Homo sapiens: one gene and its partner. The protein of the gene in region 1 interacts with the protein of each later gene in a pairwise test. Each region holds a gene or a part of one and is shown on either strand. Other genes may lie near its edges.

Region 1 (3,338 bases):
GGTCTTTGGTATATATGTTCCTTTGATAATTTTCAATATGATAAAATGTTTAGCATGTTTGCAAGTTGGCACATTTCCCTGAATACCTTATATTTGCCTTATAGCCTCTTCAACTAAGATTCTATGTTGGTATCAGGCTCTTATCGCATATAAAAACATAGCTGTGAAAAAAATAAAATTACCAAGATATAGAGAAGTAACTGAAAAGGCTTTTTTCCACATTGGCTAAAATTTCTCCAAGTAAAGCCTGTGGAGAACTTAATGAGGGTCAATGGAAAAATCTCTTAAGAAAAGAAAAGAGGCATTTAAAATCTGCGCTGTTTAGTTCTGGGGTCATAAAGTCTTGTTATCTCTCTCCATCAAGAGGTTGGTATTTGCCCTCTTCCTGCCCTCTTCAGCTGTCTTAAGTGAATAAAAGTGAGACAAGTTTATATGAATATGATCTCCTCCCTTTTAGGCAAGTTTATTATTTTGGGGCTTCAGTGGAATTCCCCAATTGTCTGGCTAGTTTAAAGGTAATTAATGATTTTTTTCAAAGATAAAATGCAAACTCATAGGCATGCTGCACGAATTCAGACCTGTTTTCAGAATAACAGTCCTCCAGAAATGTTGCTTAGTTTAGATATGAGGTCCCACCTCCCTAGTCTCCCCTCCAGGCATTCCCCCATCACTGGTGTTCCCTCCATCATACCTTAGGGCAGTACCCTCCTTTTCAGGGAGCATAGCTCAAAGCCAGGGCAGGCCGATATCCACTCTCTGGGAGCTGCACCCTGCTTTCCACCCACTCAGCTGGTACCTGCCCTTGGAGCAAACTGAATTTTCTCTGGCCTCAGTAGGATGATTTTCAATATGCTCTTTATTACCCACCTAACCAGGAAGCCACTGAATTTGTGGGCTTTGAAAAAGCAAACTTTGTTTTTTGCTTCCTCAGGCACACAGCCTTAAACACCTCAACTTGACTGCATATTCATAAGTAACTCCAGAGAGCTGCCATAAGCAGGAGCTAGAGAGAATATAGCGGCTGCCCACGTAAACACGGCCATTGCACACAAGCGTGTGTAACTGGGAAAATCTGCTAGGGACAGAAATCCTTAGGCTTGCTGAAAGAGGGCTTTGTGTCTGTCTCAAAGCCCAGTTACCCATGATTTGAAAAAGGCAGGTCGGAGAAAACCCAGATCCCTTGAAGATTCCTGTTAGGCTTTCGGTTCTGTGAACCTGACTCAGCTTACCTTGAAAGGCAGAAAAATGGCAACTGGACCAGTTCCTATTTAAGAGAGATTTAATTATTCTGCTTAACCTCAGCCTGAGCTAATAGCTCCGATGATTTCTGAGAAGTCTGAAATAGTTTTCTGAGGTTAGTAAGGAAAAGTCTACCTGCAAATGTGCAGGTTCCCGCCACTTCTGTTACATATCTTTCATTGCATGTCCTAAGCTATTTTTCAGAGAATGCCTTGTCTTCCTGGGTCTTTGTGTTAATTCCATATGAAACACAATATTTACAGGTAGGAGGGGACTATAGAGGCTTAAAATAGCTTCTAATATCCAGACCATTTCTTCTAACTCTCTTAAGGAGAAAATGACTCCTTGTATACCTTGGGGTTGCTCTAAAGCAGTGGTTATCAAACATTCCTCGTTAAAGCCCTGAGATTCCAGAAGCTGCCAGGGGGAGTGCAGGGTTTGCAGTTAGTAGACCAGACGTGCTTCCTACTTTCCACTCTGTTTACAAGAGAGAAGGTCCATATAAAATATTTATCAGCTTTATATTCAGATGTTTCTCATAAGACTTCATCTTATAAAAGGGTCCCGCTGCTAAAAAGTTTGAAAACAACTACTCCACTTATTCCTAGTTGTAGACTGAGATAGTGGACAGGGGCACAAAATGTTTTGAATTCTTTTCCGCTGTTCTTACCTTCATGGATTCCACCAAACACATGGAGCTTGGGCCGGACTCGCCTCTGAACCGTGTTTAACAGCTCCACACAGCCCACTCTTTGAAGCTCCTTTGGAACCCAGTCTCGAAAACCTAAGGGCAAAATGCAATCAATACACTTAATTTTCTTTCTTCAGGTAAGGTTTCATTTAGACTTTCAGGAAGCCATAACTCACAGAAGGTTTATTACATTATCTGTAATCCTAGCCTCTCCATTAAAGCTCACAATGGCTTTTAAGAAACTTTTCACTCGTCACTTTGTCTTCTTTAGGTTCTTGAAATTTTTTTTTGGTTTCCATTTTTTTTTCTTCCTGTTAATTAACATTTTTTTTTCTGTAGGAGATTTGATTTATTCAGCCATGGGTTTCAAATCTTCTTCATGAGCTCAATGACATTTATTCCCGGCAGTCCCATAATATCTCTTTCTCCCTCAATTCAGTTACTTTCGCTATTTTATTATATCTTTCTTATAGCAGTTTACTTCTAAGATGATTCAAAGAAGGACTGAGAGGAGCTGCCTGTAAACTGGTCACAAGATACCCAGCTCTCTTTAGATACACTAAGTCTTACCCCTTGTGGTTCCGGATGACCAAAGCTTTGGAAAGCTAGGTTGCTCCTGTGGTCCTGTCCTCTCCAGCGACAGGCAAAAATGTGACCTCACAGTGGCATCCAGCAAGCTGGGGCTAATTGACTACTTTTAAAGTAAAAGCCACTTAGTTCTACACTTAATGCAGAAAATCCATAAAAACTGACATCAATTATAGCAAAAGTCAGCTATCTGGATGATTATGGCCTGGAATGGAATCCATACGCCTCAGCAGGATAGGGCATAAAGAAGGCAGGTAGGATGAAAGGCTAAATCGTAATCTCTGGAAACCCATTCCACAGCGCCATTAGGTTATTTCTATTATTTAGAAATAACTGGGCAGTAAGGAACAGCTTTCTGCTTTTTCGGGCCAAACTGCAGACATGAACGTTTAGTGTCTCTGTAAAGACATATTCGCTGGGGTTTAAGGAGTGACTAGAGAGTCTGAAAATAGATGAAAGTGGGGTCCCCAGCAAAAATCTATCCAGCGTTTTCAAAACTTTTTTAATAGTGGGGCAGAATTCTTAAGCTACATTGATTGGCATATTACCTCATGCATGTGTTTTTCCTGAAGGGGGAAAATATTCCATTTCATATGCAAACATCTGAGAAAGCATCTTGCTTATACCATAACAGTGAAGTCTCACGGCACTGTGGCATCCCTCACCAGCAGGAAGAAATTCAAGGCCAGTCTCTCCACTCCCCTCTCCAATGTCACGTTTTCACAAGAATCCCAATAGCTATATTAACTAAGGTTTAACAATACCTTAGGAAGACTTTGCCTGACCTTTTATTTGGGAACTCCTTGATGTAGCTGTCACT
Region 2 (3,500 bases), on another chromosome or scaffold:
GTCTTAGGCAAACTAAAAATCAGTGTGACTGAAATAAATATTTTCATTGTTAGAAACCAAAGAAACTCCAAAAACTCCCTAGGCCTTATCCACCACAACCATATTGAAGTAAACACGCAATACGGAATGAGCATGGGACATGCACACTGAAAACCATGGGGAGGAGAGAAAAGGAAACCCACTCACCTCTCGGCTTTCAATCACAAGCTCACTCACACAGCGCAGAAACATGTTTTCTCCTTGACTATCTTTCTCATCCCTGTAAGGGAAATAAACAACTCAGTTTCCAGTCTGGACATGAGGTCTCTAATAGTCATTCTCAGAATGGCAGAAATTGAAACTAGCTGAAGTAAATGGTCAAAAGCAAATGTTACCTGAGGAAATAGAAGTACTGGAGGGCCTCCCTTGGGTCCGTGGACTCAAACTTCCGGGTGTACAGCATGAGGAGCCGCACGAAGTTCAGCCGCCGCAAGCAAGGAGGGTCACCAGGCTCGTGGCTGACTGCATTGTGGGGGTCAGAATGGGTCACAACCACACTGCCCCTCTGACCCATGCAACCCAGAAACTATGGAAGCTGAATCCACAGACCCAGCAGCATCTACTCCTGCAGCCCAGTCAAAGTTTGCTAATATAAGCTTTGGCCAGTCCCTTTTACCATCCTATCCTCAATTCATCCCCAGGCCCAGAGTGGAGAAAACAGCACTTTGCCATAAATTACTAATATGCTGGTCTTTGAGTGAAAACATAATCCAACTGACGATTATGGCATGTGCTCTGGGATGACTTTGCTGCAACAATAAGGAACCTGCAGCCATTCATCCACATTTACTTCCTCTCTCTCCCCTGACTCTCTCATCCCAGGCAGGTATGCACATGCCTGGCTGGGGTTTCCAATGTCATTAAAGCCAGCCCTAATGGGAATCAGACCCATAACTCTAGGGGCTGCTTCTTCAGCATTTTCCAGGCAATCAGACTGGCCACAAAGCTAGTACTTTGAACATCACTTTATATACTTAACTTTCAAGGGAATACTAATGCTGGGGGGTGGGGGGGAAGCAGGAACCCTTAACACTAATCATCTAAAAAGCTCAACTGTCCACATGCTCTAAAATGACTGGTACCCTTTGCTCAAATCCTTATTGGTTGTGGTTTTGTGGCCACCGTCGCCCCAAGGGGGACGTGCTGTGGTTACATTACTGTCAATCCAATCCCAAATACTCACGGAGCTGAGCACTCTGTCCAGAGGACTTTAAAAGCAGCTTCAGCTCAAACAGCACCAGTGCTACATGGACAGCATGGCAGCGCAGCCGCTCCATGCGGAAAAGAAAGGCAACTGCTGCTTCAAACTGCGCTGTCAGGAACAGGACTTGGAAGTAGAGGAAGGGTTGCTGGTTCACCGTAAAGTGGGACTCGCCTGGGAGAGAGGAGAGGAGAGGAGATAAAACCAACTTAGAAAGAAGGGGCTCACTGGTGGCCCAACCCCCAGGCAGCAGCCCTGTGAGCCCACAGGACTTGCTGGACAGGAAGAAAGCACCAGATTGAGTCTGAATTGATCAAGGGGGCCCTGAATACAGTAAACTGCCATGTGAAATGTGACCTGGCTCCTCCACCTTCTCTAGACCTCATAACATTACTGGAAACTGTGACTGTGCTGTAAAACTCCAACTGCTTGCATTAGGTGGGAGAGAAACAGAGCTAAGGACCTTAAAATGGACCACAGAGAGTGTTTATCTCCTTTACCCTGTTAAGTCACTCAAGGAGAGAAATGAAGATTTCAAAGGAGTTTCAGTTTACTCACAGTCACAGAAATCTGAATGCAACAACTGGTAACCACTATTTGGAATCTTCTTTTCTTCTCAGTTTTTAAAAAATACGGGAAAAAAGAAGAAAGGCTGTTTCTCTCTCCTTTGTGCTCAGATCTAGTGACTGGTACGATCGACTAGGAAGCAACAGCTAAGTCTTCTTTTTCTCTCCCTGAGCATATGTCTACTAGAACAGTTCAAAGAATTAGAGAAAACAGATTATTGTGTATGACCATATAAGTTTTATGTATTTCTTAAGGCCACATGCCCTTTATTTGAATTTGGAATGGTAGTTTTGTTGTGTTTTGCCTTGACAATCTATAGGAGTTTTGGAAGAAAGACAAAAGTTCAGAGATGAAAAATTTTCCCAGAGGAAAACTGAAGTAGTCACCTTAAGTGGACAAGAGAAGGGAAAGGTGGTTATGTCCAGAATCTTACCATAGTCTTCCAACAACTGCTTCTGGAACTGTGAGAGAGTGAGCCTGTCTTGTGGGGAGCTGGTGCCATCGTCGTCAAAACACACTTGGTTCAACTAAATCCCCAAGAGAAACACATGCATTGGTACAAATGACACCCTGAGCCACATGCACAGAGTTGTAGCTGTTCAGCAGCCATGCTCAATGATGTCAGCTAGAAGCTGTGTTTAAGGCTATGGTTATGAGCTGGGAATTACACAACAAAAAATGGGGACAGGAGACGAGGAACCCACTGGTCCTGATCACTGTATTGGCATCATACATTAAGCAGGTAAAATCTTTGCGGGGACTTGAGCACAGAAAAGGGGTAAAGCCCTATGTGGGCAGGGGAAACAGTGCCTACCTTCAGCCACAGGTAATCCTCAGTTTTGTCCGCCACTTCACTCTGGTTGTCGGTGACGTCACATCTGCCAATGATACAGTACACGGCCCGCTTGTAGGGATCTGTATTGTTCCTGAGGGCCCTACGGTAATGCAGCCGGAGCTTGTTTTCCGTAGCTGGGGACAATCTACAGACATAAGGGAACAGACAGATAGATACATACTCAATAAAAATCCTCAAGGGCATCTGAAAGCGTCCCAGGTCCCAAACACATAAAAGCAGGGAAGCCTTCCTTCATCCGGGGTAAGAGACACTGTCTCTGCCCCATCCCCTCCCCTCGGTACCATCGCTTTAACCTGACTTGCAACTACCTGCACCTGTATCTATTGGCCTGCCGGTTTTCTATTTGCTGAGGCCTTCATGGGCAGGTGAGAAATGCCAGGGAATTAGAACTCCATTGCACAACCCAGCAGCACTCAAGCAGTGATGGACAGGAGTGAATCCTTCCCTTAACTGTCTTAGCCCCTCCCTGGCCTCCACACTCCCTTATTCATGTGAGATCACCTCCTAAATAAACAACTTGCACTCAAATCTCCTTCTGGGGGAACCTTAAGACATTAACCCTACTTTAAATTCTAACATGAGCAAGACAGGGGCTTCTGGTTTGAGGCAATCTCTTGATATGACATTAGTAATGCTGCCAAGAAAAGTATCCTAGTTTTTCACAAGTACAGCTACAGTAACCGCCATCATTTCTTCTACATACATGTACATATATATAACCTCAGTTTGAGTATGAGCTTAAGTCCAATTACATTAGCAAAATCCAAGGAAAATTAATGCTTAGCAGTTCCTTAATGCAAGAGAACTTAAAGACTTAATGAATCAATTCAATGATTA

What was found.
Region 2: the proteins of MPPED2 (region 1) and NUP93 interact in binary tests that used the Homo sapiens proteins (3 or more experiments, as listed by UniProt).

Annotation. Positions count from the first base shown.
Region 1 is NC_000011.10:30,412,319-30,415,656, forward strand, and holds part of MPPED2 (metallophosphoesterase MPPED2), read right to left. Parts: intron 2,024-3,338; coding exon 1,910-2,023; intron 1-1,909. UniProt on the Homo sapiens protein: Displays low metallophosphoesterase activity (in vitro). May play a role in the development of the nervous system.
Region 2 is NC_000016.10:56,831,129-56,834,628, reverse strand, and holds part of NUP93 (nuclear pore complex protein Nup93), read right to left. Parts: intron 2,788-3,500; coding exon 2,622-2,787; intron 2,335-2,621; coding exon 2,241-2,334; intron 1,415-2,240; coding exon 1,223-1,414; intron 502-1,222; coding exon 375-501; intron 260-374; coding exon 187-259; intron 1-186. UniProt on the Homo sapiens protein: Plays a role in the nuclear pore complex (NPC) assembly and/or maintenance. May anchor nucleoporins, but not NUP153 and TPR, to the NPC. During renal development, regulates podocyte migration and proliferation through SMAD4 signaling.